Linked DNA regions of Homo sapiens: region 1 is linked to region 2. The links come from fine-mapping of genetic effects on gene expression. A gene starts in region 2. The other region holds a variant in brackets. All regions are shown on one strand. Distances are between the middles of the regions. Region 1 overlaps ARL10 (ARF like GTPase 10). Region 2 holds the start of SIMC1 (SUMO interacting motifs containing 1).

Region 1 (12,355 bases), 130 kb after region 2:
CGAGCGTTTAAGGAATTCGCCAAGGGTTTGGAATTCAGGACTGCAAAGGCGGCGTTCGTCCCACTCATCCAGACCATGCCTGCCTGTCCCAGGACGGGTGGAAGGCGGGCCTGGGCCCTCTGGTGCCTTCGGTCTTCCCTCGGGAAAGGTCCTTCGGGAGGCCGCCAGCCGCAACCTTACCTCCGCTTCCCCGCAGCCCGAGGACGAGGAGGACGAGGAGCCGGCGCTGGAGGAGCTGGAACAGCGCGAGGTGCTGGTGCTGGGGCTGGATGGCGCAGGCAAGAGCACGTTCCTGCGCGTGTTGTCGGGGAAGCCACCGCTGGAAGGCCACATCCCCACCTGGGGCTTCAACTCCGTGCGTCTGCCCACCAAGGACTTTGAGGTGGACCTGCTAGAAAGTGAGCGGACACCCTACCCCATCTCCCCGTCTCCTCTACTGGACCAGTCCTGGATTCTCTGCAGGGAAGGGGGCTTCCAAAATGCATGTCTAAGCAGCACATTCCCCTCTACGAATCCTTCCCACCGCTCTCCGGGGCACAGGATTCAGCCCACGCTCTGTGCTCTGACATTTAGGGCCCTTCGTGATCGGGCCTCTCCAGCTGCACCGCCTGCCCCATCACCCCTACCAAAGTCGATAGGCCTAACACAGAGATACTAACAGCTAAGGGTTCATATGCCAAGCACTTGACGGGCATTGCTTAAGAAAACTCCCCTAAACAATTACATAAAACTAGAATCGGTCACTACCCTCGTTATCTCCAGAGGAAAATGAGTTCCAGCAGTAGTATCATGAATCCAAGGTCACCCACCTTTCTAGTCTTTTTTTTTTTTTTTTTTTTTTTGAGATGGAGTCTCACTGTGACACCCAGGCTGGAGTGCAATGGCGCTGTCTCGGCTCACTGCAACCTCCTCCTCCCGGGTTCAAGCGATTCTCCAGCTTCAGCCTCCTGAGCAGCTGGGATTACAGGCGCCCGCCACCACGCCCGGCTAATTTTTGTATTTTTAGTAGAGACGGGGGTTTCACCACATTGGTCAGGCTAGTCTTGAACTCCTGACCTCAAGTGATCTGCCCGCTTCGACCTCCCAAAGTGCTGGGATTACAGGCGTAAGCCATCGCACCCCACCATTCTAGTTTTTTTTTTTTGGAGACAGGGTCTCTGTCGCCCAGGCTGGAATGGCAGTGGGCAGTGGCACACCCTCCTCCACTATTGCCTGTCTGGCCCAAACTAGTGTCATCTTTCCTCTCAGCACCACAGCCTCCTCTTTGGTCTTCCTGCTTCCCCTTCTGTCCCTAGTGTCAGCTAGAGAAAACCCATGTCAGGTAATGTCACTCTTGCTTAAAGCCCTTGGGGGGCTCCCCACCCCCTCACTGTGGTCTTTGGCCCCATGTGGCCCGCCCCAGCCAGCCTCACAGCCATCTCTTTCTCCTTCTTGCAGTGCCTCAGCACCCCAGCCTTCTTTCTGTTTCCCAGACACTTCCAGCATGCTCTCCCCTCTGTCTGGAATGCTTTCCTCTGCCTCTTCCCATGGCTGGCTCCTTCTCATCATCCCACTCAGCTCACATGCCACTTCCTTGATGAGACCTACCCAGACCACCCAATCCAGGGCCAACCCCTGTTCCACCTCAGCCACTTTCCCTTTTTTCTGTTTTATTTCTTTCCTTTTTGAAATGTGTTGATGTCATTGCCATGTCCTTCCCAGTTAGGGAGGGAGCTCCTTGGTGCAGGGCCCCTGCTTGCCTTGCTCACCTCTGTATCTGCAGCACCCAGATCAGTGCTTGGCACCTAGCAAGCACTCAGTAAATATTTGTTGAGTGCCTGCTATGTGCCAGGCATTGTGCTGAGGGCTTTGTGGGGATTCAGAGGTAAGTGCCTCTGACTCTCACAGCTTAGAATCCTCAAGTGTCAGAAACATAGCCAGAAACACTAGGGTGCGGGGTGACCAATGGGACTGTGCAGAGGAGCAGAGAGGAAAAGAAAGGTGATCCAGGCTGGGGGACTGTGTTGGCAACCATGTGTTCATAGGATGAAATATGACATTTCCAAGGGAAAAGAAGGGGATGGGGGAAACTGAATGGAGAATGGCTGTGTATAGGCAGGGCAGGGGGTCCTGAGTTTTCTAGACAATAGGACTCCTGGCTCCTGTCACAGCCATCACTGACAGTTTTGAACCTGTAGGAGAAAGCTAGGAATTAGCAAGAGGCAAAGCCAGACAACCCAGGGGAGAGAACTGAAGACTTCCATTTACTGAGCACCTGTGTGTCAGTCCCGTGAAAGGTACATCGCACGTGGTACCTGTGGGTTTTACTGCAACAACCCGTTAGGAAAGTTCAGTGAGGAGACTGGTGCTTAAAGCTAGGGACTTGCCCCAAGAGACCCGCCTATCAGAGCTAGAGCTAAATCCAGTCTGAGTAGCTGCGGAAACTGCGGTCTTTTCCTTGCCCCCGGCTGGTGGAAGCTCACTAAGCTAGAAGCAGGGTGGGGTGGGGGCTGTGGGCAGTGAGCGGGGGCCCGGGGTGGGGTGGGGGCTGTGGGCAGTGAGCGGGGGCCCGGGGTGGGGTGGGGGCTGTGGGCAGTGAGCGGGGGCCCGGGAGGCTCTGAGCTGGCCCCTGGCCTCTCCTCAGTTGGGGGCAGCCAGAACCTGCGCTTCTACTGGAAGGAGTTTGTGAGCGAGGTGGATGTGCTGGTGTTTGTGGTGGACTCGGCTGACCGACTGCGGCTGCCCTGGGCCCGACAGGAGCTGCACAAGCTGCTGGACAAGGACCCTGACCTGCCTGTCGTCGTGGTGGCCAACAAGCAGGTGAGGGCTGTGAGAGGGCAGCTCGGTCCAGGTGACATCCACTCAGAGATGCTTGGGCAGGGGCAAGGAGCGCTGCCTGGGCCCATGGCCTGGAGAGGGTGGCTGAGATGCTGCCCCCACCTCTTCTACCTATGCCCTGTCCTGATCCCTGCCTCTGTCTTCCTTCCTCTTTGCCTCCCTATCATCTCGTACTCTGGAGAGATGAGAAAAATAATTATTAAGTGCCTCCTATATGCCAGGCATGGTGTTTTGTTTTTGTTTTTTTTTTGAGACAGAGTCTTGTTCTGTCGCCCAGGCTGGAATGCAGTGGTGTGATCTCGGCTCACTGCAACCTCCACCTCCCGGGTTCAAGCAATTCTTGTGCCTCAGCCTTCCGAGTAGCTGGGATTACAGGTATGTGCCACCACACCCAGCCAATTTTTGTATTTTTAGTAGAGGTGGAGTTTTGCCATGTTGGCCAGGCTGGTCTTGAACTCCTGACCTCAAGTGATCCGCCCGCCTCAGCTTCCCAAAGTGCTGGAATTATAGGCATGAGTCACTGTGTCTGGCCCCCAGGTGTGGTTTTGAATAACATTTCTTCTTATGCTTCTGTTGACCCTATAAAGTATGGGATGCTATTCCCATTTTATAGATGGGACAGGCTAGTCTTATAATCTTTCCAAGGTTGTACATCTTGAGAGTAATAGAATTGGTCCAGGCGTGGTGGCTCAAACCTCTACCTCCAACACTTTGAGAGGCCAAGGAAGGTGGATCATTTGATTCCAGGAGTTCGAGACCAGCCTGGGCAACATGGTGAAACTCCGTCTCTACAAAAAAAATGCAAAAAATTAACTGGGTGTGGTGGTGCCTGCCTATAGTGCCAGCTACTTTAGAGGCTGAGGCAGAAAGATCACTTGAACCCAGGAGGTCGAGGCTGCAGTGAGCTGTGATCACACTACTGCACTCCAGCCTGGGTGACACAGCGAGACCCTATCTCAAAAAAAAAAAAAAAAATAGTGGAATTGGGACGTGTAATGCTAAAGCTGTACCTTTTCCACTCTGCTATGCCCTTGCAAATTCTGGCTCTAGATCAGAGAGCTGAAGCTGGTAACTGATGAGAGGTAGAACAGGTTAAATAACAGCTAACATTTATTGTGTGCTTACGGTGTGCCATACATGTGGTAAGCACCTGACAATCATGACCTCACTTCCCTCTAAATACCTCGTGATAGGCCCTGCTGTTACACTAAATACCTGGAGTTGCAGCTGGCATGTGGCAAAGCCCAAACTTGAACTCAGATATTCTTCAAAGTTCCTCCTCTTAACCAGTGTGCTGTACCTCTCTTGGGTGCCAGAGAGTCGCCTTGGGCCCAGGAACCCTCAGTATCACAGACCTTGGGTCCCATTCTCAATATCAGGTGAAACTGCCAGAGTACAGAGTCTGATCATATTTCCTGTGGCCTAAACTCAGGTGCCTCTGAGAGCTGTGGGACCTGTTTCCAACTTGACATGGAGAGAGACTGTATGTCTTCGACCTCAGATTCCCCAACCTATTAGGAAACATTTGACAATTATTTATAAATAGGGTGACTGTATGTCCTTTTCTGTCCAAGACAGTCCCCATTTACGACTCTTGTTCTGGCACTATTAATAGTGCCCGCTCTGAGCCTCAGATTGCCCCAGTTTGGACCAGGAATCACATCATGTCCTATTTATAAACTAATTTATAGCAGTTTTGAACCTGTAGGAGACAACATCTAAGGTCCCAGCAGTCTCTGAATTGCTCCAGGAAGAATCATTTAAATCTTGGGCCAGGGTTGAAATTACAACATACCATCACCAGTCATGCTGTGTAGTGGTCCCTTGTTTTCCTCCAGCTAGTTTCTAGAGGTCTTGTCTGGAAGTGATCCTACTGTATCATCTCTCCATGACTGAGTTTAGGAAACTTGGTTATCAAACCAACCTGAGTTGGCACCTGGCTCTACCACCTATCACTGTTACCTTAGCTCAATGATGTCACCTCCCTGAGCTACTTTTCTCATCAATTAAGTGTGGACTGTGAACATTAAATAAGCTGAAGTATATACGGGCCTATCTACAATGCTTGACACATAGGAAGTGCTCTATTTCTAGCCGGGCGTGGTGGCTCATGCCTGTAATCCCAGCACTTTGGGAGGCTGAGGCAGGTGGATCACCTGAGGTCAGGAGTTCGAGACCAGCCTGGCCAGCACGGCGAAACCCCGTCTCTACTAAAAATACAAAAATTAGCCAGGCGTGGTGGCTCACACCTGTAGTCCCAGCTACTAGGGAGGCTGAAGCAGGAGAATCGCTTCAGGATTCCACCACAGGAGGTGGAGGTTGCAGTGAGCCAAGATCGTGCCACTGCACTCCAGCCTGGGTGACAGAGCAAAACTCCGTCTCAAAACAGTGGCTAATGATGCAATGAAAAGAGGTTGGTACAAAGGAGAGCCCAGGGTGAGGGAGAGAGCATTGAGTTTAGGCCAAGGGGTCCAGAGGCTACTTCTGGGAACTTGGGGCCTGATATTCCCGGGGATAGCCTAAGAACAGTGTGTTTCCTGATATTCCCGGGGATAGCCTAAGAACAGTGTGTTTCCTGATATTCCCGGGGATAGCCTAAGAACAGTGTGTTTCCTGATATTCCCGGGGATAGCCTAAGAACAGTGTGTTTCATGAACGACAAGGGTGTCAGTGTGTTAGGAAATGCTGCCAGCTGTGTTCGGACTTCTGTGTCTCACCCAGGACCTGAGCGAGGCCATGAGTATGGGGGAGCTGCAGCGGGAGCTGGGTCTACAGGCTATCGATAACCAGCGGGAGGTTTTCCTCTTGGCAGCCAGCATTGCCCCTGCAGGACCCACCTTTGAAGAGCCTGGCACCGTGCACATCTGGAAACTGCTCTTGGAGCTCCTCTCCTAGGCTGGAGCTCTCCTGCTTGCCACCTGCCTGTCAAGACCATAGTTGTACTGCTGCTGCTTCATTGCCAGACTGGGCCTGGGGCAAGAGCCACATGGCAGCATTTCCCTTTTCCCCTCCTTTGCCTTTCAAGAGCAGGGCCTGGGCAAGGCCAAGAACCATGCAGAAGCCTTCCTGGTGAGGTGGCCGTGAAGCCGAAGCAGGGAGGTGGGTGAGACAGAGGGTGGGGAGGATAGTGTCTGGCTCATTCCAGGCTGGAATGTGGATCCAGCTTTCCCTTCTCTTACCTGTACAGTGAGATGCTCAGTGGGCTCAATCCTCCACTACAGGTCCCGGTACCTGAGGAACCAGTGTAGGTGTCAGAAATACTCCTAGAGCCTCAAGGTCTCCCAGTCCAGAAACAGTCTGGTGACGTCATGCCCTTCTCATGTGGGCAGCTTCTGAGTGGTGACACAGCAAGCCTTTGTTCCTGTCCTGCATTGTCCAGCCCCAGCTCCACCTAAGTGACTTGTGGCCTTGTGCAATCTCTGCCTCTCTGACCCCAGGGCCATTATTTTTAAAGGGAGGTGGTTTCCTAATTCGGAGATGCCTTTCCCAGCCATGGGAGTGTGAAGTGCTAGGATGAACCTGGCCATCCTAGCAAGGAGCTTTCTGAAGACCTCCCTGCCTTTCCCTGAGCCCAGGCCTGGCCTGCCAGCCTCTCTTGACTACAGAATAACTGATATTCACCCACCAAACAGAAAAAGTGAAGGCTGGGTTTTTCCCCTCTAATCTGGAGACAAGCTGCTGCTCTCGTACTAACTGTGCCAGTGCCCATGTTTACAGAAGTCAGGGGAAGGAAGGAGCCTGTGTCCCTGGGACGACAGTCAACTGGAGCTAGGTGTTGACCTCAGAACTGCATTTTATTTATTAATTTATAAGCAGAACAGGCCAGAGTTCTAGGCTCTGTTTCTAGGTGCTGTTTTCAAAACCCCAGATGACAGTCATAGAAAATTTGGAACTTAGGAAAATAGCTGGAATCATGAATGACAATGAGATAACATACAGATGTCAGTGGAGACAAAGTTGTGGGTTCCTCCTCCCACCTGGCTTTGAGGCTGTCGTCGATATCATAGTACTTTACATGGATTCACATGAACTGAAACGCCACCACTTGGCCCAGGATGTTGAAAGGGTGCAAATTCCTTCTGGGTAGATAAGAAATGACTCTGGGAGAGGATTTCCCTTATGTGAATCTAGGTAAAAAGATGGAAAAAAATTGTATTATGTGATCCTAAGGACAGGAATAGCAGACCAGCCAACGGGATGGCCTTGGGTACATCACTCAGCCTTTCTGGACCCAATTTTTCCCCAGTGAAAGCCAAGTTGGACTGAATTTCTGGAGTTCTCATCAGTGCACATTCCATAGTTCTCCAGTGCTTGGCGATCAGCCCAATTGAAGGACTGGCTCTGTACTGACACTTATTAT[C/T]GGTACAGGCAAAGAGGAGCCTGTTGTCTGTTAGGGACCACTAAATCAACAACCACAAATGGATTTTTTTTTTAAGAGGAGCTGTGCACCTCAATTTGCTGTCTAGTTGAGAATAGAGATTGTGTGCCTTCATTTCATTTGACATTTACCCAGCATGCCTCAGTTCCACACCGTGACCAGTGTAAGAAGAGGAACTATGATAAAAACAGTTCAACAAGCCGCAAGGAGGGTGGGAAATTCTGAAGTCCAGAAGCGAGTGTGATCTTTGGAATAGTGGCTGCTGTGCCCTTGGGCGCCATTTGAAGAATCACTGTTCTTGAAAGTGCTGGTTCACTTTCTGCAGTAAGAAGTGATTTATGGGCTTTTATGTAAAATTTTAAGAATGACTTGGGTTTCAGAGTAGCCTTTGAAACTTTGCTGGCAGCTTTTCATTTTGTCATTGGAAGGCTAAGAGACTTTTCTCCTTTGTTCTATGAACTCCTTGTTCTTCAGGGCTTGAAGGCAAAAAAACCTTAGACAACTTTAACGAAGTTTAAAAAGTATGTTCTGTTTTTGAGCAGAAAAAAGATTCGTGAACTGGTTAGTACTTAGCACCAAAAGCAGTTCAGAATGCTCAGCCCCACAATGTGTGTAGGCTACATTTATAGCCAGAGAAACGAAAATAACTTAGGTTGCCTGATTGGCTGCAGTCTGGCATTTGCCTTACCTGAACATGTTTTAGCAGCCTTCAGCCGACGATTGACTGAAGGTTTGGCTGCTGTGATTGGCTAAAATTCGGCTACTTGTTAGAAGAACATACTTTTAGGTTAGGTTACGAGTTGTTTACACGTTAAGTTACAATTCACTGTGTACAGAGGCAGCTTTAGGCCAGACTTAATTCAGCTTCACAGTGTCCCTCATTTTGCTCAGCCCCTTAATTTTGAGAGATTGACCAAAATCCCACGCACTGACACTACCTTCTGTCACTATTTGACCTCATTATGGAACTCACAGTTTACAATGTTAAATCAGTTAGCGGATTCTGTATGTCTTCATGTTTCTGTTACTCTAACCGTAATGAGACCATTTGAGGTACAAAGGATGACTGCATTGGTGTACTTAAGACTACAACACATCAGTGGGGACCTTAGGATGGCTATCAGGAGTGTAATACCAAGAAACTGGAATGCATCCCTTAATATGAGTCTCCACAAACCAAACTGATTGGAATCAAACAACTCAAGTTCAGACGATAAAAATAGTTCAACAGCGTGCAAGCTCTGCTGCTCATAGCCTGTTCAGGGTATAATGGCAATTAAGGACATAGTTCACTATGAAGTACCTTAATTGTAAAGTGTTTGATTTTTTAGTTAGCTTTTGGTAACACAAGTCATGGTGATTGGGATACCCACTAAAAGAAACATGAAGATTAGAAAACCTTGAACAGCTAAGCTTGCTGTCTACCATTCAGGATGCCTGCAAACCAACCACTAGCTGCTCCTGCAAACACATTATGTGTTCCTTTTCCCTGAGAAATATCCTTGATGTGTTTGGTGGCAGTATCTACAGAAGCGGCAGCCACCACCGCCTTTTGAAGCTCTCCATAGTAGTAGAATCAGGAAAGATAAGCACAGCGTTCAGTTTTGTTCAGCACCATACACAAGCTCCTAGCTGGGCAAAGGAAATCTAAAGCTGCATGAAGTTCCATTACGTGTTTTTGTTGAACACAGGTGGCCTCATCCATCCATCCATCCATCCATCCATCCATCCCTCCATCCGTCCACCCGTCCACCCGTCCACCCATCCACCCACCCACCCATCCATCCACCCACCCACCCACCCATCCACCCATCCATCCATCCATCCACTCATCCACCCATCCACCCATCCATCCATCCATCCATCCATCCTTCCATCCATCCACCCATCCACCCATCCATCCATCCACCCATCCATCCATCCATCCATCCATCCATCCATCCATCCATCCATCCATCATCCACCCATCCATCCATCCATCCATCCATCTGTGGCTTCTACCTGTGCGAATCTCTGTGCTACAAAATTCTTTTCAATTTAGCATTAACTTTAATTTCCATACAGTTGGCACCTCACTGCCGCCAAAAGTGAGTCCGCAGGAACTCCACTGGAATATTTGCTCAGGGGAAACTAACTAATCATCTGTTTCAAGGTTGGTATTCATTTTAGTCTTTGACCTCTGATTATGGGGACTTTCAGGGAAAGCTGTTTGCAAGGTGAGCATGAATCAGGTGAAACAGCAAGATCTGAAGTCAGGACAGAGTAAGCAAATTATCCACAGACCTAATATGTACCCTCTGAAGCTGGAAAGTGGGGGCCACCTGGTAGCATTTGAGCAGGGGTCACTTATGTTCCCCCATAAGTCTGCACAGCTCCTAAACAAGGTCCAGTGGGCAACTTATTTTTATGTGGTCCCTTTATAGCATGCTGTAAGGGTGCATAACCACAGCCAGTGAGAAGGAACCCTACTGGATTTAACCCAGTGACATTATATAAGCAATCGCTTGGAGCCACATAGGTAGTTCCCAGGTCCTGAATATGTGGTGCCTGAAAGCATAGGTGTAGGCAGTGTTCCTTGCATAGGCATTACCTGGACAGGTTTTTTTCCATATTGGCACTTATTAATTGAAAAGGTCAGGGTACCACTTCCAATGAGTGTAGGGAAGCAAGCAGTAGTGGTGTTTAGAATATCAAGGTTAGCTGCTGGATGCGGTGGCTCACGCCTGTAATCCCAGCACTCTGGGAGGCTGAGGTGGACGGATCACGAGGTCAGGAGATCGAGACAATCCTGGCTAACACAGTGAAACCCTGTCTCTACTATAAAATACAAAAAATCAGCTGGGTGTGACGGCATGCGCCTGTAGTCCCACCTACTAGGGAGGCTGAGGCATGAGAATCACTTAAACTTGGGAGGCAGAGGTTGCAGTGAGCTGAGATCACGTCACTGCACTCTAGCCTGGGAGACAGAGCGAGACTCCGTCTCAAAAAAAAAAAAAAAAAAAGGTTAGCATTCCACTCTTCCTTTGGGGTTTCAGGGTGACTTATTGGGAAAATGGAGAGATACTGGCATTAATGGAATCGTTTCCTGATTTGAGCGTTAAGTCACAAACCCAACAGGAACTCCAGTTTCTTGCTAGAGCATTAGCCTTTGCTAAAGCCGGCCCCAGATTATGGTCCCACGGATTTTCCCATAAAGAAAGGGAAAGGATTTGCGGACAGAAAATAGGAAAGAGAGGGAGAAAGATAAGATTTTTGCGATTGCAGTGAAGTCTTCATCCACATCTAGGGAAAGCTGTTCATGTCTAGGACGTGATCTGCTTCTGGGGAAAAACTTCCCTGGTTAGCTTTACCTTAAAGTCTCCAACAGGTGTGTAGTTCCAGGAGTCTGGAGAGGTCCTTTTGAGTTGTGAGATGTGGACCCAAGGTTCGAAGCCCTGAAGTTTTACCACAGTGTGGGTAATAGAAGAACTTGGTATTGTCTCTTTCTGTGAGGTTTAAGGGCACTTTTTCTCTGATACCATCTCCAGAAGACCTAGTCTCAGGTTACAGATTGTGAAGGCTTTGATGGTCCTCTGTGGGTCACAGAAAGTTTATTTTATTTTGTCAAAATACAGTGTGACATAATGCATTACAGCTTTGTAGTATTTAGTGGCATCAGCATTTAGGAGAGTAGGAACTACGTGAAGTTCTGTTAGGAGCACAGGCTTTCTAGTAACTATTTCATAGGGGTCAATCTGTGTCTGTCGTAGGAATGGATCTGATCTGCTGACCAAAGGCAATGGTTGGCTTTCTTCTTCAGAGATCAGAAAAAAATGAAATTCAAAGCCAATGGTGGTATCTTTGGCCAAGATAATCCAATCGATTCAGTTAATTTTGCCAATTTTAGTTTTAAAATATTTGTCCTTTTGACCTTTCCAGAAGACTGAGGGTGAAAGGGACAATGGTAGTACCACTGTGTTTCTAACACTTTATTTAGCTGCTTCATAGTTTGTCCAATAAAATGAGTTCCTCTGTCACTGGAGATTTTTCCAGAGATGCCCCATAAAGGAAACACATGTTCTTATAACTCCTTAGCTACTGCCATAGCATCAGCTCTCCTACACAGGAAAGCTTCTATCCAACCAGAAAACATGCCAACTATTACAAGAACATACTGATACTTAATTGAGGGTGGCAGTTGAATGAAGTCCATCTGTAAGCGTTCAAATGGTCCATCAGGTGTTGGTGGAAATACACCACTTGGAGTTTTTATTATCTTCCCTGGATTATGGGTTTGACAAACCAGATATTGGTTATAACCCATTTCAGCATTTTACAGTGGTCACACTATCAGTATTTTTTATAATCTGGATCATCTTGCTCATTTGTGAGGTGCAGAGGTTGTTTTTTGTTTTTTTGTTTTGAGACAGGATCTCACTCTGTCACCCAGGCTGGAATGCAGTGGTGCAATCATGGCTCACTACAACCTCCACCTCCAGAGATCAAGCAGTCCTCCCACCTCAGTCTCCTGAGTAGCTGGGACTACCAGTGTGCGCCACCATCCCCAGCTAATTTTTTGTAATTTTTATAGAGAGGGTTTTATCCTCTTGCCCAGGCTGGTCTTGAACTCCTGGGCTCAAGCTGTCAGTCCAGCTCAGCTTCCCAAAGTGCTGGGGTTATAGGGAAGAGCCACCGTGCCTGGCCAAGTGCAAAGCTTTTAACAATAGAAGTTTCAAGGGCTCAGGAAGGACCAGGGGGCCATCTAGGCTCTCCATGAGTTCACGCTTAACATTATGTTTACGTCTGTCAGATAACAATTTTGGTTTTCCACATCAGGTGCATTGCACTGTTAGATGGGTCATCATAAAGGTCATCAATCTAGTGGCATTCATTCAATTTGCACATCCTAACTGTTTCAGCACTATCTGATTTAGCATGAAAATCTGCCAGGGCAGTCCCTTGATATTCAGGTTCAGCTTTCCATGTATGGGCTTCAATCTTATAAGAATTTGTTATTTATTTTTCACCTTTACTCAAGATAGCTTGGAACTTATACCAATTTGTGATGGCAACAGGATAGTAGCAAGTTCATCCACTTGAGTCTGTTTTTAATAGGGGCTCCACTAGAAGTGAGAAACCCTCTTTGTTTCCATAACATGCCAAAATTGTGGACTGCAAAGG
Region 2 (12,764 bases):
GTACAGTGTGATTTTTAGGGTGTGTCAGAACAGATAAGTATGTGTAGTAAGTAAGTATGTTTTGAAGGATTTACAAGAAACTAATAAAGGTATTTAGTGTTAGGAAGAAGAACTAGGAAAGAGAGGGTGGCTTTCAACTTTCACTTTTCATTTTGTAAGTTTTGGTAGCAAGAATTTACTGAACTCACAAGATGTTTCTTTTAGTTTTACAAACTGTTCAATGAGGGATACCAAGAATGGGAGAACGTGGTATATTTTTTTTGCTTGCTTCTTTGTGGTTTTCTATATAAAGCAAATACGCTATTTTAAAATATGAGCCAATAGACAATATGGATACTATAGATCCATGTTCACTGACACAGAAAACCATAAGGACATATTAATTTAAGAAAACCAACTGTGATGCAATATGCATAGTCTGATCCCATTTATGTAAAAATTTTGCACATGTGAGTATCGGCCATTTAGAGATATCTAGAAAGATGTTATCAAAATATGATGGAGTTACACATTCTGCTTCGTAACCATTCTCAATTGCTTTAACTTTCTCAAATGAGGATTCTTCAAACATAGGGAATGAAACAAAATTTTTACAAAGGCCTTGATATCACAGCAAATTTGAAGATGCGAAGGAAGCAGGGAGAAAGTATAAGAAAATGATTTAAATAAAGTTATGTAAACTGAGAGGCCGCCTGCTGAAGCAATCCAGTGGAAAAGCTAAGAGTGCCCTGAAACTGGAAGATTAGACCTGGAATCCCACAGAAGGGACAGAATGTTCCCTAGAGCAGGGAGAAACTTGAGCTAGCTGGCTTTAGCATAAACAAAAGCGGGTCTGCAGGCACTGACCCTGCCATGTAATGAAAAATAGAAAAAAGAAAAACTATTTTAAAGATGAATAACCACCAAAAAAAAAAATCCCCATTAATAAGGCAGGAAGCTTTGTATTTAGAATGTTTTTACCACAAATGATGGTTTCAAATCTCAATAGCAGGCTGCGTGCGGTGGCTCACTCCTGTAATCCCAGCACTTTGGGAGGCCAAGGCAGGCGGATCACAAGGTCAGGAGTTCAAGACCAGACTGGTCAACACAGTGAAACCCCGTCTCTACTGAAAAAAAAAAAAAAATACAAAAATTAGCCGGGCATGGTGGCGTGCATGCCCAGCTACTCCCAGCTACTCGGGAGGCTGAGGCATGAGAATCGCTTGAACCCAGGAGGCGGAGGTTGTGGTGAGCCAAGATCGTGCCACTGCACTGCAGCCTGGGCGATAGAGTGAGACTTCGTCTCAAAAATAAACAACTCTATACCAGAGCAGATATGTTATTCGATAAAGCTAAAAATGTATTTAATTTTAGTAAGTACACATGAATTCAGGTAAATACACAGAAGCAGCTCTAGAGGAATAAACATAACAGCACTGAAAAGGGGGAATTGCGAATCTGGATGGGGGAAGTGGCAAAAGGGGCCTTTAGCCTTGTCTGTAATGCTTTTAAATTTTATAAAAGAAAACCATGCACATAGTGTGTTCTATTTTGGTAAAATAGACGTAACACAAAATTTACCATTATAACCATTTTAAATATACAATTCGGCGGCATTAGTTCATTCACAAAGTTGTGCAACCATCACCACCATCCATTTCCAGAACTCTTTGTCATCCCAAGCTGAAACTCAATACCCATTAAACAATAACTCCCCATTCTCCCCTTCCCCAACCCCTGAAAACCATTATTCCATTATCTGTCTCTGTGAATTTGCCTATTCTAGGTACTTCATAAACATGGAATTGTATGATATTTGTCCTTTTGTATCTGGCTTATTTCACTTAGCATAATATTCTCAAGGTTCATCCATGTGACATGTTATCAGAATTTAATTCCTTTCCATGGCTGAATATATTATTCTATTATATGTATATACCACTTTTTTTAATCCATTCATCTGCTGAGGAAGACCTGTTTCTACCTTTTGGCTATTACAAATAATGCTGCTGTGAAGATTTGCAGACGAGTACCTGTTTGAGTCCCGTTTTCAGTTTTTCTGGGCAAATATCTAGGAGTAGAATTGTTGAATCATACGGTAATTCTACATCTAACTTTTTGAGAAACTGCCAAACTATTTTTCACAGCTGCTTCTCCATTTTACATCCCTACCAGCAACGCACAGTGGTTCCAGTTTCTCCATACCCTTCCCAAATTTGTTTTCTGTTTTTTAAAAAAATAGCCATCCTAAATGGGTATAAAGTAGGATCTCAATGTGGTTTTGATTTGCATCTTCACACATTTTTTCATGTATGAATTTTTCATTAAAAATTATTTTAAAAGAAAAGAAACAATTTTTTCTTCATTAACCAACTAGTGATACCTCCTTAACTGCTAAGCTCTTTGAGAACAGAGGTAATAGCTGTCCTGCTCACTGCTTTATCCCCGACCCCTAACATAAGCCTAGCATCTAGCAGGTACTCACCAAATACAGTATTCACTGGATGCATAAAATACTACATTAGCCTCTCAATTTACATGAGACTAATGTATGGTTTGGGGGGAGTGAGTCTATGAAAAAGTGTCACCTTAAAAAAAATACACCAATTTCTGAAAAACATACAATCACTTTGGAAGTCTTGGGTAAACGGCACACTTCAAGACAAATCCAGGATGGCCAAGGAAACATAAGTGACATTACTTATAGTTTTAAGGAGGGCAACTTCACAGCCAGTATTCATCCCACCTGGGTTGCCAAGTAAGGGCAGGGTACTTTTAAGCTGTTCTCGTATTATACCACCAGGGGTCCTGAGTTTCCTGTATTTCAGGCAGGATGGCTGATGAGAAAGATACAATCTGAACACTCTTGTGTCTTGCCACAGTAGAGTAGGCCAGAGCTTGGCTAGAATCAGCAGCAGAGGCCAAAAGAAGTAGAGGGATGCAGGAGATGTTTAGGAGGTAAAACAGACAGGACTTGTTGAGGAAAGGGGAGAGATCAAGTGCAATGCTCAGGTTTTTCACTTCAGCAATTGCTGGCTGGTGGAGCCATCACCATAAGACACACAAAGAGAGCAGGCTTTTTTGTGGGTGTGGGGAGCATAAAGGTGAGTTTGGCTTTAGACATATTCAACCTGAGAGGCCTACGAGCTTCAGCAGATGTTTGGATGTATACAACTGGAGTTTTAAGGACAGGACTGGGCTGAGATAAACTCGTGGCAGCCATTGGCATAAAACCAATCACTGAAGCCAGGGAATAGTTGAGATTGTAGAGGGAAGAGGTCCCGTGTGAAAAGGTGGCCAATGTCAGGACTCTAAGGGACATCAAGAGTTTAAGGAGTGAGTAGAGGAGTAGGCGTCAGCTAAGGAGACTAAAAAAAAGTGGTGAGAGAAGTACAGCATCACAGAAACCTACAGAAGACAGTGTTTCAGCAAGCAGGTAGTCAGACACACCAAATGGTTGTGTATTTTGTTTCGTTTTGTTTTATTGAGACAGGGTCTCACCCTATTGCCCCGACTGGAGTGTAGGGGCAGTATCATAGCTCACTGCAGCCTCCAATTCCTGGGCTCAAGGGATCCTCCTGCCTCAGCTGCCTGAGTAGCTAGGACCACAGGCATGCGCTACCACACCTGGCTAATTTGTTTTTATTTTTGTAGAGACAGGGTCTTGCTATATTGCCCAGGCTAGTCTCAAACTCCTGGCCTCAAGCTATTCTCCCAACTCGGCCTCCCAAAGTGCTGGGATTACAGGTGTGAGAGATCACAACCCTAAATGTTTAATAGCTTTAGATGAAGACAACTTAATGAATCCTTTCACAAGGGTGACTTCACCCATTGGACCAGAATGTCTGAAATCTGCTGGGCATAAACTCCCCGTCCACCAGACCAGTGGTTCTCACAGTGTGGTCCCCAGACTAGCAGCATCCACATCACCTGGGCACTTGTTAGAAATGCAAATTTCAGGGCCCCACCCCCAAAATTCTTTTTCTCAATCAGAAAATCTGATGTGTGATTGTTAGTTCATTCTCGAATTGCTATAAAGAAATACCTGAGACTGAGTAATTTATAAAGAAAAGGGGTTTAATTGGCTCACGGTTGTGCAAGCAGTACAGGAAGCATAGTAGCATCTGCTTCTGGGGAGGTCTCAGGAACCTTACTATCAAGACGGAAGGCGAAGGGGGAGTGGACATCACATGGGGAAAGGGGCGAGGTGGGAGGTGCCACACACTTTTAAACAACCAGATCTCAAGAGAACTCGTTATCACAAGGACCGTACCAAAGGGATGGTACTAAACCATTCATAAGAAACCACCCCCATGATCCAATCACCTCCCACCAGTCCCCACCTCTAATATCGGGGATTACAATTCAACATGAGACTTGGGTGGGGACGCAGATCCAAACCATACCAGCAACCCAGCAATCTGTATTTTGTTGAGTTTTTTGTTTTTGTTTTTTTGAGATGGAGCCTTGCTCTGTCCCCCAGGCTGGAGTGCAATGGCACGATCTCGGCTCACTGCAACCTCCGCCTCCCAGATTCAAGCAATTCTCCTGCCTCAGCTTCCCAAGTAGCTGGGATTACAGGCGCCTGCCACCATGCCCAGCTAATTTTTGTATTTTTAGTAGAGACGAGGTGGGCCAGGCTGGTCTCGAACTCCTGACCTCAAGTGATCCACCCGCCTCGGCCTCCCAGAGTGCTGAGATTACAGGCGTGAGCCGCCGCACCCGGCCGCAATCTGTCTTAACAAACACTCTAGGGGATTCTGATGCTCACCAAAGTGTGAAAAACACTGCATTAGACAGTGCTTGGAGAGCACCTGATAACCATTCCTTTAGGAACAAATTCCCCTCCTATTAAACACATTATTCTTTGGATCTGTTAACATATTTTGCAAAACTTCTGGAGCCTGAGCAGCAGGATTTTGTCAATACCCCACATTTAGTGTACCAATAGGTCCTATCTTGATTTTAATGGTCCTGCCCTAAAACCAACCAACCAGCCAACTACCCACCGATTCCTCTACTGGGGACAACCTTTTTCACCTTTATAACTTCTGCTTATTCACAACATCTAATTATTCATGGCCTCTGCTACTTCATGGCTTCTTTTGTGCACCTTTTCAGCTTCTGATCCTGATACCAACTGAACAACTGTCTACGTCAAACTTGTTTAACTCCCTGTTTAACATTAAGAGATTTTTTTTTTCGCAACTCTTTTCCTTTAGGTCATCAGCTATCATTAGTGTATTTTATGTATGGCCCAACACAATTCTTCTTCCTGGGGAAGCCAAAAGATTGGACACCCCTGCTCTAAATCTCAGTTTAAACTCCTGAGAGACACATATTGTTGGTGAAATCGCAAACTGGTACAATTTAGGAGGGTAATTTGGCATCATTTATCAAAACTACAAAAACATGGCCTTTGCCCCAATAAGTCCGCTTTTAGGCATTTATCCTACAGATACACATGGGCGTGTGCACCAAAAAGTGGGGTCTCTCTCTCTCCCTTAGCTCGGCCAGAAGCCAGGTCACCTACCCTCGGTCACTCGGGGGCCAGGACCTCTCTCCCTGCCCCTCAGTCAAGGCCCTCTCAGTCCGGGAGGCGCTTCACACCTGGGCAGGGTGGGACTGGGCGCGCCTCACTTCACGCTTTCGTCGGTTGGAAGCAGGTGGGGAAGTCCCCGCGGCCTCGGCGTCTCGCACGCCTGGCCCCAACACCTGCCGAAGCCGGCTGCGACTCCATTTTTCTTTTTTTTTTTCCTCCTGGGAAACGGAGGACCCGCGCCGCCACGAAGCACAGCGACCCCGGCCCTGACCCCAGCCGCCCGCCGCCGGTGGGCGGGGCTTGGCGGCCCGGCGGGGCGGGGCTCGGGGCGGGGCCGGCGTGGCGGTGGCCCGGGTTGTAGCCGCCGCCGCTGCCGCCGCCCCGCCGCCGCCACCTCAGAAGCAGGAACCGAAGTCGTCGCCGCCGCCGCCACTGCCTGGGTCTTCGGTCGGGGCCCGCAGCCATGGAGGATTTCATCGTGATCTCGGACGACAGCGGCTCTGAGAGCTCCGGGGGCGCCCGCCCGGGCCGGTCGCGGAGGCCGCGCCGGGCCCTGTCGCGAACCTCCGGCGCGCTGCCCCGCCGGACCGTGGTGAGTGAGCGTCGCCTCGTTTGGGGGCGCGCGTCTTCGCGACCCTCGGCTGGGCCCGCCGCCCGCTTCCCGCCCCTGGCGCCTCACAGCTGCAGCCACTTCCCGCCTTGCCTCCTTCCGGGCCTCTCGGGCCCCGGGGAGCGCGGCGGGCCGGGGCAGGGGCCAGGGCAGGGACCGGGGAGGCCGGGCCTCCCAGGCTCAGCGCTGAAGCCCGAGAGGACTGCGGCTGGAAAGCGGCCGAGCACATGGACGAGCTCCTGGCGCGCCTGCTGCAGGGGCTGGGGTCTCAGGCCGGGGCCGCGGGCGTCCTCGGAGCCTCGGCGGGACGTGGGGGCTCGGGTGTACTGGCCGGGCCGATGCAGGAAAGCGGGAGCGCGTAATTCTTCGGCCTGTGGTGGACACAGATGTGTGCAGGGAGGTAACAGGAGCCCAGGCTGGGAGGGAGGGAAGCGCGGGCCTGGGCCAGATGGTGGCCGCGCTCCAGGGCCTGACTGCAGAGCGAGGGGCCCGATTTTGGAGTTGTACAGGAGGGCGATTTATTTCCTCAGCACTTACCCTGTACCAAGCCCTGAAGGAATAGGGAAGGAAACCTCGCGCGCTATTTCTGTTTCCCTCAGAACCCCTTCGTCTTTGTCGTTCATGAGGTGGTGAATTATCTGCCTTTCGAGAATCCTGCATCGATGTTTATTGAATCCCTACTATGAGCCAGATGTTGTAGGGGCCGGGGATACAACGGCGAACACAATATCCATGGTCCCCTCAGAAGGTGATACATCATCAGGTGGTTGTTGAGGACCTACTCAAGCGGTGGGAGGTGGAGCTTTCTCTCAGAAGGCTTCCAACGATCTCCCCAGCCTCCCAGAGCCATCCCCCGGAAACACAAGGATTATCAAGCTGATGTTATGTGTATAGATCATACAGTTTACCATGCTTCCTATGCAAATACTCGTTCAAGACGTTTCCTAGCTTCTGCTGCCCCTGTTCCCTTTCTAGCTGGTTTACAGTCCCTAAACCTCCATTGGGAACCCCTTCTGTGCCCGAGGTACAGTGCCAAGTGCTAGATGATCACTATAGAATGAATAGCATGCAAAACTAGTTAATATATATTATTTTTCAAGCAAGAGGGTTTCTCAGGACGTCTTAGAGACAAATTTAGTTGAGTTAGGCAGCTCATGAGGTAGTGAGAGAAGAGATTTCCAAGATAGAAATGACCCGACTTCATGAGTGAATGGATATATCTAGGGCTGTGGCTGAATGTATCGGACATAATAGATGCACAATAAGTATTTGTTGGATGAAGGAACGATTGAAAGAATATGGGGAGAGAGAATGGTTTAGATGGATGTTTGATAAGTATAAGAGAAGTGCATATAAAAGTAGCAGCAGGCTTGAGATGAAGGAGATGCTGAATTCAGGTTGGACCTGTTGGATTTACAGTGTTAATAGGAAATGTAGATGGATGTGGCCAGCTCAGTAGTTGGAGAAAAGGCAAGAATGGAGATATTTGGCAATCATGCAAACAGAAAGGAGTATTGAAGGCCTAATAGTGACTGAGATCATCAAGGAAAAGAGTAGAGAGAGAAAAAAGGTGGAAGGGAAAAAATACTTCTTTCCTCCTAGTTCCTCCTCATTCCTATAGCCTCTTCTCTCACTACCTGTTTAACTTTGTCCTTCCCACTTGCTTCCTTTCCTCCCAAGTGTTGTCCATTTTCCCTCATTCTGGTCCAGCTTCCTTCTTCAGTGGTCAGATGCCATGCTTATCTCAGTCTTTTGTGGTCTTTCACATACGTACATGGGCGTAGTCTCTCACTGTTTCCCTCACTTGTGACCACTCAAGCAAGCATTTTGATCTTGAGCCTTTGAGTTGAATCGAAATGAGGGGCAAGTTCCAGAGAGCAGTACCCAATTTAAATCGTGCTTCTCCAGATATTTATTCCAGCTCTCTAAAAGCTCCAAGCTTATTCTCGTTTTATCTTTTTTGCAAATTAGATAAGAGTGGTATGATAACCATGTAAAAGATCAGAGGCATTGAGAGACTTGCAAGGTTATAAAGTCTAAAAGTGCCCTTTTCTTTGTAGCTTTTCCTGAAGGCTCTGAGGTCAGAGAGACTTCTGAATCAATATCTCCAGCATAGCAACTATTTGAGTTTTGGAAAGTTCTGTCAACTCTCAGCTTTTGAGCCTGAGAACATTAATGCCTACCTAGCAGGATGGTTTTAAATTTTTAATGAGACAAATGCAAGGAAAGGATCTCATATAAATGATAGCTTTTGCCACTTTTTGTGTTGTTTCTAAGCCCAGGCCTGTCCCTCTTGAGCTTCACAGGCAATGAAATAAAAGAAGCAACTTTTACATCTTTTTTTTTTTTTTTTAATAGATATTGACTAAGGGGAAGTAACTTGCTTGAACTTGAGAAAGCCATGTCTAATGCTGAAGTTGACATTTCTGAACTCTTGATTCTTAACCTGGGCTTTAGTCTTCACTGAGTCGATGAGGTGTGTTTCTGTGTTTATCATGGCTTTTTCGTTTGGGATTTTTTGTTTTTCGTTTTTTTACTTATAAAAACAGAACATTTTCAGATGGTTAATTTTGTTGATCTAATTATACAATTTTTATAAATGTATAAAGAAGAAAATTAAAATTGCCCGTAATCTCACTATCCAAAGATAACCAATGTTAACATTTTGATGTATGTCTATGTAAATGTTTACTTGCATACACACATGTGCATACATACATACCTATGTGTCCTCCCCATACATGTTTTTATGACCTCCTCTTAATGGATATTATGCCTTCGTTTCTAAATTTTCTCTAAGAACCCAGTGAAAAATTCCCTCATAATCTTTGTACTCTTGTTCATTTGTTTATTAAGTTCCTCTTAGAAGTTAGATTGCTGAGTCAAAAGGTGTGCCCTACTTTATATGTAGCTAACCCTTGAAGAACACGGGGATTAGGGTTGCTAACCCCCCCGTGCAGTTGAAAATTTACATGTAACATTTGACTCCTCGAAAACTTAACTACCAGTGGCCTACTGTTGACTGGAAGCCTTACCAGTAACATAAGCAGTTAACTCATGTTTTGTATGTTATATGGACTCTTACGATAAAGTAAGCAAGAGAAAAATGTTAAGATCATAAGGAAGATAAAATACATTTACAGTACTATACTGCATTTGTCAATACCATAGGTTTACATCGTCTGTTTACAAGATAAATCATCTGTCTGAAATAGGGGACAACCACAGCTGCAGACCTCTATCTACGGTACATCTCAAGCGATTCAGCTTTTCTTATGTCATGACTTTTCTCTGTTTCTTGAGAGCACATCCAGCATCACTAAGCACTTTGTATGGGTTTCATGGTGTTATTCAAGGTTTACGATATTACCCTACACATGATTAAACAAGTATATGTGGAAAAAAACCCAGGAGAGAACACTTGTTACCGTGATACACAGTTTACTGGGAAGTAGTGCAGAAATTGATTAGTGTCACGTGGCGTTTTAAGTGGATCCTCACAACACTTGAGCCCACCACAGCAGCAGCAGATGTCTGTGGTAGTAGGACATTATTATCACGGTAGTACAGTGTAGTCTATGGTAAATTTTATGCAGTTGTGATACAAATTAAAAAGAAAAAAATAATGAATTTAAAAATATGCAGTTGTGAGTTAATATTGCATCTTTACATTTCTGTCAACTGCAGATGTCACCATCTATGGTCAGTAAGTGATTGTGTGCATAAATTTTGATAAAGTTTAACTTTGTATAATAGATTTGTGTTGATTTTATGGTAGTAAATGGATAAAATAGGCTAGTATCTACATATATTTTATGCATTCAGGACATATCTTTTTCTTAGTTTTTTTCAATTTTTATAGGCTGTGGAGTTCATCTGTGAGTTTTCCAAATTGTTATAAATCGCCAAAAAATTTTCCAATATATTTATTGAAAAAAACTCTCTTGTAAGTGGACCCATGCAGTTCAAACCTGTGTTGTTCATGAATCAACTGTATTGCCAAATTTCCTACAGAAATTGTGCATTAATATTCTTACCAGTGGTATATGGCCAATCATATCTCTTTCTCTGCTGCCTAGTCACCCCTAGGTATTGTTACATTATTCCATAAATATTTATTGAACACTTATTATATACCAGGCACTCTTAGAGGTGCTGGGAATACATCTATGAAAACCAAGTCCCTGCCGTCATGGAGATTTCATTTTACTGAGGGGACACAGATAGTAAACAACACTATAAATGTAATGTCAGGTGATAATACAGAGTGTTAGGGGAAAAAATACGGTATTTTTGTTCTTTTAATCTTTGCTGTTTGATAGCCAGATTCCATAAGATGTCATTATTTTTTATTTTTTTATTATGATTCATTTATTCAATAAATATTTATTGAGCATATGCTGTAACCCTGGGGACCAGAGGTGAACAAGATGATAATGGAACTACATTCTACTGTGGAAAGATAGGCAGTAAACAAACTAACAAATAAGAGAACAGTATAATAGTAACTTTGGTGGGATTGGGAACATTTGATTGTGTTTTCAGAGAAGGCCTCTCTGAAGAGTTAATATTTGACCTGAGACTAAAATGACAACAAATTAGTTATAAGATCTAGATGAATAAGGCATTGTCAAAGGGAACAACAAAACCAAAAGTTTGGAGGCGGGAATGAGCATGACTTACTGGAAGAATGGAAAGCCAGTGAGGCTGCAATGTAACGACTGATGGACAGAGTCAGAAGAGATGAGAAGTAGGTAGGTTAGGTTATAGGGCTTTGGAGACCACAATAAGGGATTTGGATTTTATTGTAATACAGTAAGAAATCTTTGAAGGTTTAAGCAGGACAGTGACATGATTTGATTTACTTTTTTTTTTTTTGGAGATGGAGTCTTGCTCTGTTGCGTTGCCCAGGCTGTAGTGCAGTGGTGCGATCTCGGCTCACTGCAACCCCCACTTCCCAGGTTCAAGCAATTTCCCCCACCTCAGCCTCCCGAGTAGCCGGGACTACAAGCACACCACCACGCTTGACTAATTTTTTGTATTTTAGTAGAGACGGGGTTTCACCATGTTGGCCAGGATGGTCTAGATCTCCTGACCTCATGATCCACCCGCCTCGGCCTCCCAAAGTGCTGGGATTACAGGCGTGAGCCACTGCACCTAGCCTTGATTTACATTTTTTAGAGATGACTTTAGCTACTGTGAAAAGAAAAGATGGTAAGGTAGGGAGACCATATAATTTATCATCCAATTGGGAAACTTTTGCAAATGAAAAGGGATGCTAACTGGACCAGGATGTCAAGCAACAGGTGAAAACTGGAACTGTCCCAAACAAAGCAGAAGTGTAGTCACCCTACTGTAAGAGGGGAAGAGTGAAATTAGGGAGATCAGTTAGAAGGTTGGCTGTAGTAGTCCAGGTCAGAAATAACTGTAGCTTGGACTGGAGTGGTGGTACAGACTGGGAGAGTGGAGGGATGTAGATATTTAGTAAATAAAATCAACAGGTCCTGATAACTTGGATGTGGATAACAAGGGAAAGGAAGGAATGAAGAAGGATGCCCTGAGTTCTGGCTTGAGCAACTGAATGCATGTTGGTGTCATGCATTGAAATGAAGCAGACTTGGGAGGAACAGGGTTAGAGGAAAGATTCAAGAGTTCTGTTTTGAAGGTATAAAACTTAACGATGCCTGTGGAATAGCCAACTGGAGATGCCAAGTATAACATTTGTACTGAGTTTAGAGCTCTGAAGAAAAGTCCTGACTAGAGATACAAATTTAGTCTTGTTAGCGCATAGGTTATAGTGAAGTCATTGACCTGGATAAAATCATCTAGGTTGAGGTGACAAGAGGAAGAACATCCAGAACCTAGCCCAAGGGAACACCATAGTGTCCCAAGGGAGGAAGAGCAGCTAGTGAGGTTGGAGATAAAGGAGTGTGCTCACATGCAGTACAGCCAGACATCTTGCTTATGTTTATTGGAAACACATAGGGTATGTGTGCAAATTCCCTATGCTTGTCCTTTGCCCATTTTTCTGTTGCAGTGTTATAATGTTTCTTTTTTTTTTTCCTTTTTTTTTTTTTTTTTTTGAGAGGGAGTTTCACTCTTGTTGCCCAGGCTGGAGTGCAATGGCGCAATCTCAGCTCACTGCAACCTCCACCTACCTGGCTCAAGTGATTCTCCTGCCTCAGACTCCCAAGCAGCTGGGATTACAGGCATGTGCCACCATGCCCAGCTAATTTTATATTTTTAGTAGAGACAGGGTTTTACCATGTTGGTCAGGCTGGTCTCAAACTCCTGACCTCAAGTGATCCACCCACCTCGGCCTCCCAAAGTGCTAGGATTACAGGCATGAGCCACCGCACCCGGCCAACATTTCTTACTCATTTGTTAAATCTACTTATATATTAAAGATTGTTATAGGTGGAACTGTATCTCCTAAAAAGATGTGCTGAAGTTCTAACCCCCCACTACCTCAGATTGTGACCTTATTTAGAAATAGGGTCATTGGCAGATATAATCAGTGAAGATGAGGTTGTGCCGAGTAGAGTGAACCCTTAATCCAACATGACTACTGTCCTTATGAGAAGAACATGTGAAGACACAGGGGAAGAACGCCATGTGACAGTGGAAGCAGAA

Evidence for each region.
Region 1: its variant is fine-mapped to the expression of SIMC1 in blood mononuclear cells (TOPMed, PIP 0.95).

What each region holds. Positions count from the first base shown.
Region 1 is chr5:176,366,184-176,378,538 of GRCh38, forward strand. It overlaps ARL10 (ARF like GTPase 10), which reads left to right. Exons shown (of 4, transcript NM_173664.6): 2 at 197-398; 3 at 2,624-2,799; 4 at 5,539-12,355. The coding sequence ends at 5,712. It overlaps MIR1271 (microRNA 1271), which reads left to right and starts at 1,763; the gene lies at 1,763-1,848. The variant C/T (reference allele first, on the strand shown) is at 7,178.
Region 2 is chr5:176,232,525-176,245,288 of GRCh38, forward strand. SIMC1 (SUMO interacting motifs containing 1) reads left to right here and starts at 5,900. Exons shown (of 10, transcript NM_001308195.2): 1 at 5,900-6,113. The coding sequence starts at 5,985. RefSeq lists silencers at 5,572-5,691, 5,742-5,861.